2 linked regions of the Homo sapiens genome follow. The protein of the gene in region 2 purifies or fractionates together with the protein of the main gene of each other region. This does not show direct contact. Each region holds a gene or a part of one and is shown on either strand. Other genes may lie near its edges.

The links. Proteins that work in one complex are often made in the same cells at the same time.
Region 1: the proteins of SLC24A5 (region 2) and CCNT1 purify together in Homo sapiens (affinity purification with mass spectrometry; one large-scale study listed by BioGRID and IntAct). This does not show direct contact.

Annotation. Positions count from the first base shown.
Region 1 is NC_000012.12:48,695,171-48,700,122, forward strand, and holds part of CCNT1 (cyclin-T1), read right to left. Parts: intron 4,671-4,952; coding exon 4,608-4,670; intron 3,014-4,607; coding exon 2,968-3,013; intron 1,069-2,967; exon of another isoform or gene 993-1,068; coding exon 829-992; intron 660-828; coding exon 589-659; intron 1-588. UniProt on the Homo sapiens protein: Regulatory subunit of the cyclin-dependent kinase pair (CDK9/cyclin-T1) complex, also called positive transcription elongation factor B (P-TEFb), which facilitates the transition from abortive to productive elongation by phosphorylating the CTD (C-terminal domain) of the large subunit of RNA polymerase II (RNA Pol II).
Region 2 is NC_000015.10:48,118,939-48,124,417, reverse strand, and holds the start of SLC24A5 (sodium/potassium/calcium exchanger 5 precursor), read right to left. Parts: upstream 3,429-5,479; 5' UTR 3,374-3,428; coding exon 3,253-3,373; intron 2,562-3,252; coding exon 2,382-2,561; intron 1-2,381. UniProt on the Homo sapiens protein: Calcium, potassium:sodium antiporter that transports 1 Ca(2+) and 1 K(+) to the melanosome in exchange for 4 cytoplasmic Na(+). Involved in pigmentation, possibly by participating in ion transport in melanosomes.

The sequences.
Region 1 (4,952 bases), on a different chromosome or scaffold from region 2:
TCTGCCACTCACTCAACTCAGGAGAATGAAATTAACTTTTTCTGTCTGGATTTAGGAGAAAACAATGGAAACATTTTAAAACAAGTTTTATATCTGACAGAAAAAAAAGGAATGATTCCATTATTCCTGAATAAGGCTTTGACAAGTATTTGAAATACAACTTCAGACTACAGCCTATATAAAAACAAAATTCTAAAATCCATTTTAAAAGTAGGTAATGTCAAACACAAAACTGTGATACCGGCTCTAACCTTGTAATTCTCTATCTTGCCTCTACCAGAAGCCAATACTCTAACTCCGAGAAGCCATGTTTTTTCCCTACCAGTTTCCACACAGAAAATACTGAACCAGTGTTACTGCTCAAATGATCATATCACAGGAGTTACACAATGAAAAGCAAATCCTGCTATCCCATAGAGACACTGACTTTTACAACAGTATCCAAGGTATGAAGTAGAAGTCATGATTACTGTGTAACTATAAAAAGGGCAATTCCAAACCTAGGGTACATATTCAATACTGGTATATTCACTGGTGCAGTCAAAAGAAATTGATTTTGTTCCACAAGCTGACAGTAATGATTCTTACCCTCCAATTCCAAATGCGTTTGAGCCTGTTGGGAGTTTTCTCCAAAATCTGTAGAAACTCATGTGTCAGTTCTACAAGTAAAACAGAACATTCAAGAAAGACTGAGAGAAACAGAAGTAATGAAACAAGAATAACCTGAACTACTAACTAACTATTTTCATCTGAATCAAGTCACCTTTGGCCAGCTATGTGACAGATCAACAGCAAGTGCTTTTCAAGGTCCCTTACTCTAAAACTTACCATCTAAAAGTTCCAAGGTCACAGTGGCGTCAACATACTCCCACCAGTGCTTCCCGTCAGTTGAGACTGGGATCTCCCAATTGGACCACTTGCAAGCCAGGTGAATGCAGACACAGGCCACCACAGGAGGTGTGTACTGCAGGCTAAATGTGGTCAAATGCAGGCTGACATCAGAGGGAAGAAAACAGAGAGTGTCATGAGCTCTCAATTCTCAGCCCAAAGCTAAAACTCTCCATTATTTAAAAAAAAAAAAAAAAAAAAAAAAAAAGGCTTAAAAATAGACAGGAGAGTAAGAAGGGTAAGAAATATGCAATGCTCTGATCTAGCACTCAATATAATTTCCTATTAACCCACCTGTTCAGGTAACAACATTTTAAAAACTCTTGAATTACACATCACTTAATCTACACATTGACCAGAGCCAAAAAAAAAAAAAAGGAAAAAAGGAAAAAGGCTGGGAATTCAAGTTCTTTAAAACATTGACTTCTGGGCCAGTATTCAAGCCTAGAAGTCAATATTTATTACCTATTATCCTGAGACTAAGCTCAGATCCTAAGGAAAATTGTAAGCTTTTTGGTCTGTGTAATCCGTAAATCAAAAACTTAAGGAAATATCTTAAAAATAATTTGTCTCTCACCAATCATAGTTCTGGTCTATTTAAAATAATAAACAGACAACTACTCTCTCAAGTATAAATATGTTGGTTTATTTCAAAACTTTTTCGTAACAGGCTATAAAAATGAACTTCTTAGCCCTGACAGTTACTAGGGATATCATTGGTTTCCATTAACTAACAATGTTGGGCAAGTCATTTGGTAATACAAGTTATGTACTAATCATTTACTTTTTTTAGACAGAGTCTCTCTCTCTGTCACCCAGGCTGCAGTGCAGTGGGGCAATCTCGGCTCACAGCACCCTCTGCCTCCTGGGTTCAAGCAATTCTCGTGCCTCAGCCTCCCGAGTAGCTGGTACTACATGCATGTGCCACCTTGCCCTGCCAATTTTCGTATTTTTTAGTAAAGATGTGGTTTCACCATGTTGGCCAGGTTGGTCTCGAACTCCTAGCCTCAAGTGATCCACCAGCCTCAGCCTGGGATTACAGGTATGAGCCACTGTGCCCAGTCTCATTTACTTTTTTTAAAAAGGGAAGAAGGAAAAAGACTGAAACTCTTAACATCCATAAGTGCCCATTGATTGATAGAGGGGGAAGAAAAAGGAATATTTTAAAATATAATTATTGGCCAGGCACAGTGGTTTACACCTGTAATCCCAGCACTTTGGGAAGCCAAGGCAGGCGGATCACTTGAGGCCAGGAGTTTGAGACCAGCCTAGTCAACATAGCGAAACCCCATCTCTACTGAAAATACAAAAAAATTAGCGGGGCATGGTGGCGCCAGTCTATAATCCCAGCTTAGTGAAGAGGCTGAGGCCGGAGAATCACTTGAACCCGGGAGGCAGAGGTTGCAGTGAGCCAAGATCGCACCACTTCAGTCCAGCCTGGTAGACAGAGTGAGACTCTGTCTTAAAAAAAAAAAAATATATATATATATATATATATATGCCTGTAATCCCAGCACTTTGGGAGGCTGAGGTGGGCAGATCACGAGGTCAGGAGATCGAGACCATCCTGGTTAACAAGGTAAAACCCCATCTCTACTAAAAACACAAAAATTAGCTGGGCGTGGTGGCGGGTACCTGTAGTCCTAGCTACTCGGGAGGCTGAGGCAGGAGAATGGTGTAAACCTGGAAGGTGGAGCTTGCAGTGAGCTGATATTGTGCCACTGCACTCCAGCCTGGGCAACAGAGCAAGACTCTGTCTCAAAAAATAATAATAATAATTTAAAAAAAAAAAAAAAAATATATATATATATATATATATACACATATAATTATTGCAGAATACTCCAAATTAGATTTTCAGTCACTATCATGCAGAACTGAGTAGGTTATCAAAAAAATCAGTACTAAATAATTACATAACCTTAGAAAATTAAAAAGTACCATGGAAATTTAAAGTACAACATGAAAACTGTGCAGAAAAATCAACATTCACCAGAGAATTATCTATAGCACACTGTATCAAACTCAAGTAAAGTCCTATACCAAAAATCGAAGAGAAAAAAAAATTAAAATATAAACCTGTTGGTTGCCATGAAGTAAGAAGTCTGTGCTAAGTCCTTGCTTGCTAAAGAAAAAAAAAAAAAGTCAGGGGTGGGGGAGGAAAAAAGTTATTAGTTCCATTCATTCTCAACAAATATTTAGTAAGCATTTAATATTTGCAAGGTACTGTGAATATAGTGGCAAATGAGACACACATGGTCCCTGTAAACCTGACGTTTACATTCTGCCAAAGTAGACAGATCAATGATTTTTAATTTTAACATTAATAACTATGCTGCTTCCAGATCTAGGTACTCAAGCTTTATTCTGCACACCACATATCTGAGGTACTTGTTTAAATGCAATTCTTGGACCTGCTCCCTAAAATTTAATTAAATGTTTGGAGAAGGGTGCAAGCATTTTTTAACAAGTAACCCAGAGATTCTGATGTAAGGATTCACTGAGAATCACTAAACTACAGGATGAACTAAGATGATCTAGAAGCAAGATCAGAATCTAGAAGACTTTGACATATTTGGGAAAAGTGACTTTTGCTGTTAAGAAAGTTTTTAATTAAGGCTGGGCACGGTGGCTCACGCCTGTAATCCCAGCACTTTGGGACGCCGAGGTGGGCGGATCACCTGAGGTCCAGAGTTCAAGACCAGCCTGACCAACATGGAGAAACCCCGTCTCTACTAAAAATAAAAAATTAGCTGGGGTGGTGGCGCATGCCTGTAATCCCAGCTACTCGGAAGACTGAGGCAGGAGAATCGCTTGAACCCGGGAGGCGGAGGTTGTGGTGAGCTGAGATCGTGCTACTGCACTCCACCCTGGGCAACAAGAGCAAAACTCCGTCTCAAAAAAAAAAAAAAGTTTTTAATTAAGTAGCCCTAATTAAGATTTAATTAATTAATCCCCAAATCATCAAATAATGTAATATATTACAATGAAAAAATTTAACTTCTTCCAAAACAAACTGTTCTGGGTGACAAAGCAAATTTTTATCTTCCTCAGGACATAGTCTTCTCAATATTAACATACACCCATCTCTAGTCTTATCCTTGTGCAATATAACATTTTAATACTTTCAAATATAAAGAACTCAGGAAAATTTGGGAATTTTCACAGGAAACACATATTAGTAAAATGTAAAATAAGACCAATTATCAGTTTGGCCTAAAAATCATAAAAGGCACTTAAAGGCACAATAGTGTTCAGATATTCTTGATACTAAACTAAATAAGAGAGTTTCATTCAATTATACCTAATATTGTTAAATTAGAATTAAAAAGAAAAGTTCTGCCAAGGGATTGTATATCATGGAAAGTCCAAATAAATTCTGTATGATCCTCTAGGTGGCCTTTAATCAACCCCAGAATTAAAATAAGATCACCCACTCCTCACAACTTTCATAAAATTTCTGTTAAATAACTTCACAAACTGCCCAACTTTGACAAACATTCTCAAGAGGTTAGTTCTCTTTAACTAGAGATCATCTAAAAATATTACTTGTAAGAACCCAACAGAAAAACATCAAGTCAGAACAACTCATTTTGATTTAAGCCAAGTAGGCCTTTAAATTTAGCCAAAGCAGAACTATTATGTATTGTCCACCACAAACCACAACCTCTAAATGGGAAAACAGCTTGAGATAGTCTTCATAAGCTGGGATTCCTTACCTCGAACAAGTTGAGTGCACTTTACTACATGAGTATGTGGGTGATCAATTGTTAGTTCAAAGCCTTAAAAGAAAAAGTAATGGATTAAAAAACTATTAAGAAGTTTACATTTTACAAATTATTGTAAAAGGATAACTGATTGTAAATTACACCTTACTGGTTTCCACACTAAAATATTAATAGAAATTTATTCCACCAGAAAAACATCATTGTCCCATGAAATATAATTTGAAGATATTTTAAGAAAAAAGTTAACTAGAGGCTGGGCGCGGTGGATCAAGCCTGTAATCCCAGCACTTTGGGAGGCCGAGGCGAGCGGATCACAAGGTCAGGAGATCAAGACCA
Region 2 (5,479 bases):
ATTGGCATAAGAATGTACAAAAAGGTTATTAGAACAGAGTTGGGAGCATAGAGACAGATCTACATCTATATAAGAACTTAGTATATGAAAATTGATCAACTGTTGGAAAAAAGAACATTACATCCTATAGCAAGACAGATTCTTAGTGGAAAAAATAAATAAATTTTAAAAAATCCTGCATGTAGAATAAAATATGATGATTGTTGTGACCTATGGATAAAAATGCCTTTCTAGTTATAAAACCAAAAGGAGAACCATAAAGAAAAAGATTTACAAATTTACTTAAAATATTTAAACTTCAAACTTCAATGTGATAAACACAAAATGCAAAATCAAACAAACCATGAAAAAGCATATGATATGAAGTAATACTAGAAAAAGGGTTAATATCCTTATATATTTTTAAAGTCTTGAAAATCAATAAGAAAGAGACAGAATACCCCTGATATAATATGGGCAAAAAAACACAAAAGGAAAACCATAAAATAAAATAAACATATAAAATATTCACCCTCATGGATAATAAGATAAACACAAATTTTATAAAATAATGGGAGGTTAAAGCAACCAAGGATATTTCACATATTTTTCATGGTTTTCTGGAATGGATGCTTAAGGAGGTATAAGTAGGCACACCTTTTGTGGGATGCCTTTTGCAAATATATATCATAAGACTTAAAATATCCACATCTCTGCCTCTTAATCAGGAAATGATCAGAGAGGTGTGCAAAGATTTTATACAATTATGGGCATGACATTAACACAAAAAACTTAAAACAGGCCAAATGTCCAATGAGAGTAATAGTTTTAAATTTTATGATAAATTTCTACTGGGTGCCTACTATGTGTAAAAACCAGTGTCAGACGCTCAAATCATTTATAGAATCATGGACTATCATGATATCATTAAAAATAATGTTTTTGAAGAATGTTTAATAATATTGGAAAATGTGCACTATAAAATATTGTGTGAAAAAAAGGAAAGATCCCAAACTGTATATAAAGCAAGATTCAAAAGATTTAAAGGAAATATACCAAATGGTAACTGTGTAGATGGAAATACAGGTGATTTTATCTTTCTCTTCTATTTTTCTTGTATTTCATTAATCTAAGTAAAACTGTTAAATAATTTAATCTTTATTAAAGAAAATATCAATTATATATAAGATGTAACGTCAAGATAAAAGCATATGTTTGTATCTACTTAAGAAAAATTGTAATAAATTAGGCTAATCTATCATATATATATATATTATATATTTTCATTAAACAGATAGGTGTTGAGTGCCTCTGCTATCACCAGTTACTGTTTTAGAGCCTACAGATTCTGGTATACTGCAGTGAACAAGGGAGGAAATAATTCGCTTTGCATTTCAGCAGGGGTTGGGGGTGGGGTGATGGGAAAAGGGAGAGTTTACATTCATGCTCTTTCCCTTTATAAAGAAATGGCAGCAATGTGTGTGTGTCGGGGGCGGTGGGTGGAGGTTGAGGACGCTGCTGTTACTGTGCAGTCTTGTGAATATGCAATAGGAAACCCAATCCTTAATTTTGACATTGCTTTTTGCTGTAATGTGGGCATGCTCAGCCAAATAAATAACCAAACATGAGACCAAGTCTAGAAACACACTTTTGCTCATATGGCACAGAACATAACTGCTATCCTGGTGTTTAGGGACCAGTGCACCAGTGAAGGTCTATGCTCAGAATTCTGGGCAACATATACTGCTGAAGGAACAGAGCTCAGAGGCTTGGACCGGCTGATCTTATTTTCAGAAACCAATAAATGGAGCTCTTAATTTTTAATAACTGATTTTACAGTCATCTGATGTCTAAGGTCACTTAGGATACAGGACTTATTCATCTATCTGTTTATTGGTTCTTAAATATCAATTAATTTCCTTAATGGTAGGATGCTGGGAAAGGAAGATGGGGAGGGTGGTCCTTAATTGCATTTGTTTATCACTTTTTATAATCAAAGTTATAGCGAGCTTAGAGTAAAAATAAAAAAAAGTTTTTTGAAGCATAAAATGGCAAATATTAGGAGTTTCATTGTATTAGGAGCGCACACAAAGTACATACAAGTGAAATCTTGGAACAGTTCTTATAACAAACATCCAGGCAGTAGACAAACTAGAGATTTCTGGAAATAGGCAGAAAAATAATAACTGCCGGGTTCTAACTTGAAGAAACTCTGATTCACATTAACTACCAAGAGAAACCACACTCGACCAGTTCCTTAAGACACGGGACCCCACAACAAGAAGCTGGTGCTCTGCAACCAGTTGAGAAGTACAGGACAGCTGCTGAGCTATTTCAAAGACAGTCATATCTGTGTGGCACACTCTCCCAGAAGGTTACAGGGCAACTTTCCAGCCACTTACATTCACTGATGATTTCCAGGGAGGGTAGGAAGTATTCATCACAGACAATAGATATGGCCATGAACATGTAAACGATAATTAGGAAATAGATTATGATGCCTCCATCTCTGCGCTCCTGTCTCGTGAAAAACCCTTCGGGAAACTCCGATGATGGAGAAATAACACATTGGGTGCTATTTCCTGTTAAGGAAAAGGAGGTGAAAGTTTGAAGAGTTTGGAGTCACACATTCCAAGCCCACAGAGAGCTTCCTTAAGAAATCTGTAAGTGTGGGGTAACCGGGTGGAATTTTAAGGACCCACTGAAAATGTATAAAGCGCTTCTGAATATAACACAGTTGTAGAGTTTTCAAAAAATTTTTTTGGGGGACTGAAAAGAGATATCTTAATGAAATATGTTGATGATGGTGAAGAATTAAAAAGAGGAAATCATGAAATCACTCCTCCTTGTTTTTATTTCTGAATCTCTCTTCCCCAAGTAGAAACTGTATCTCTGATACATGAAGATTTCTATTGTTTATACAATTTCGTTTTCTCATTGCAGAGCCTAAATTGTTCACAGGCCTGCAAAGAATCCATCCACTGTTGCAGAGAGAATTTCTAAGATGAAAGATTTTTTGTTTTCACCAAAAAGTCTCCAAGAACAAAAACTGGAGACTTGGCCTACTATGATCTCTGTGAATTACTTTGGAGTATATTTAAGAACTTATTTGAAGGATCAAAAGTGTTTGATATCTTTTTAAATGCTAAAATTCAGAAGCGTAAGTAAAAGTGAGCCCATTGAGAATTTTCCTCTTTTTGTCCCTTCATCTGTATGTGGTAGCAGCAGCAGCAGCTGCTGCTGCAGAGCTAACTGACCCCAATGTCCACCTACCTGTGGCCCTTGGGAGACGTTGGGGCAGGGAGGTCCCTGAGAGAGGCAGATGTGCAGTGGCCCACAGGATGCCGAGCAACAGAGCCCTTCTCGCCCATGTTTGGCCCCCTTTTGTCTGCATTTCTGCTGTGCTCTTACTGCAGCGTGCAGCTTCAGGAAGGGAGAAGAGGAGGATTAAACTGGATCATGTGAGGAGTCTCCTTCCTGCCCAATACCCTGCCCAGGGCACATCTCAGCAAGGCCAGCACAGGAGAAAGGGCGAGTGTAGCCAGTCAAGCTTCTCTGATCAGGAGACCCAATCTCCAGGGAGGCCGGAGGAGACGGAGGAGAGCTGACAACCATTGTCTATAGCTATTTCCATGGCCTACAGTCTCTAAGGGCAGATTAAGGCAGCTTGTACTTTATGAAAATGTGTGGTTTTATTTAATGTCTTCATACTGGCTCTGCTTTTGACTTTCTCTAGATTTGTAAAAAGTTGGGTTTGCAACTGCTTCCCATCTCTCTCCAGCCCTTTCCCCTAGAAGTTGTTTGGGTTGATATTAATATATGTACATGCTTTGGCTAGCTCGGCATCCTTTCATATTTCTGTTTTAGCCTCTCATCTTCATCTTCAGTTAGGGCCAAAGGGAGAAAGGCCAGTTAGGGCATCATTGCAATCGTCTAGCTGAGAAATGATAGTGGCTTGAACCAAGGCTGTGGCAACGGGGATGGAGAGTAGCTGACAGTTTCAAGAATTATTGAGATGGAGTGGATGCTATTTGATCATTGATAGGCTGTGCTTTCTGCCAGAGGGAGCTATCTAAAATGCAAATTTGACGTACAAGGTAGTGTTTAAATATAGACTACTATCTTCCCTATGCTAACATTTATGAGGCTTGCCAAGATATTTAGAACTTTTGGCAGTGTAGTAACCTATAGCTAATAGCACAGGCTATGGAACCAGACCACATGATTTGAGCCCTAGCACTGCTACTTACTAGTTATGTGACTTTTGGCATGTTATTTAACCTTTCTGCTACACAGTTCTGCTATCTGTAAAACAGGGATCACCTGTATTTGGGTTGTGGTAAGAATTACAAAAATGAACGCAAATAATTTGCTCAGAACGACCTCTGGCTGACGTCTTCATTCCTTCCTTTCTTTTTCTTTGTTTTGTTTGTTTTCCTTCCTTCCTCCCTTCCTTCCTTCCTTCCTTCCTTCCTTTCTTCTCCTCCTCCTCTTTCTCTCCTTCCTTCCTTCCCTCCTTCCTTCCTTTCCTTCGTTCCTTCTTTCTTTCTTCCTTTCTTTTCTTTTCTTTTTCTTTCTTTCTTTCTTTCTTTCTTTCTTTCTTTCTTTCTTTTTCTTTCTCTTTCTTTCTTTCAATTGAAATAGAAGCGTTTTTGTTCATAAAAATTTTTGTAGTTTTGCAACTTTCATGGTTCCTTTGCTTTGCAGAAAAAACACAAAAATTGATATGCCTAGTAAGTTTTCTATTTAGAAACTAGCTTTATCTGATGGAACGGAGTAAGTTGCTTCCTGATGTTTGTGATCTTGGGTCGGAAGAAAGTCTCAAAAACTACTTTTTTTTGTGGGAATTGGTATCCATTATAAACCTCTCCAAAACTGTCATTTCTAGGAACTAGATATTCAGATGTATGGTGTGATTGTGAGGCTGTGATGATGAGTCACCAAAGCATAGCCCAGTATAGAGCAGATTCTCAACAAGCAGAGTTCCAGCTGTCTACACTCGCAGGAAGCAGCACCCTGATCACTGGGGAGTGGCCTACATGCCAGCTAGCTAAGACTAAGGGAAGAGGTCGTTTAGTTTTATGCTGAGTGGAAGTGTCTTGCGAGCCTCTCCTCTTCAACACACAGTACTTCAATCAATTCATAAAACATCATAAACAAATAAAATACCAATAATATAAAAAGCTCAAACCCAAAGTGAAAGCTTCCAATGCACATTGTCAGCTAATTCAAGAGAGAGAGCAAGTGTCTGAAGGTACGAGCCAATTGCTATGGAACAGCAGAAGTGCCTTGCACATAGTTAGTACTCCATCAACATTTGCAGATCGATTACTTTGCAATGAATGGTCTTGAAAACACATTGCCAGAACATGCATATGCTTGGTCTAAACAAATTACCATCTAAATATGGATTTACCACGAAAAGAGATTTTAGGAGATGAATTAGATTTGCTTCACACACATTCTTCATTTTGCAAAAGCATCTTAAAGATCTTTTTCT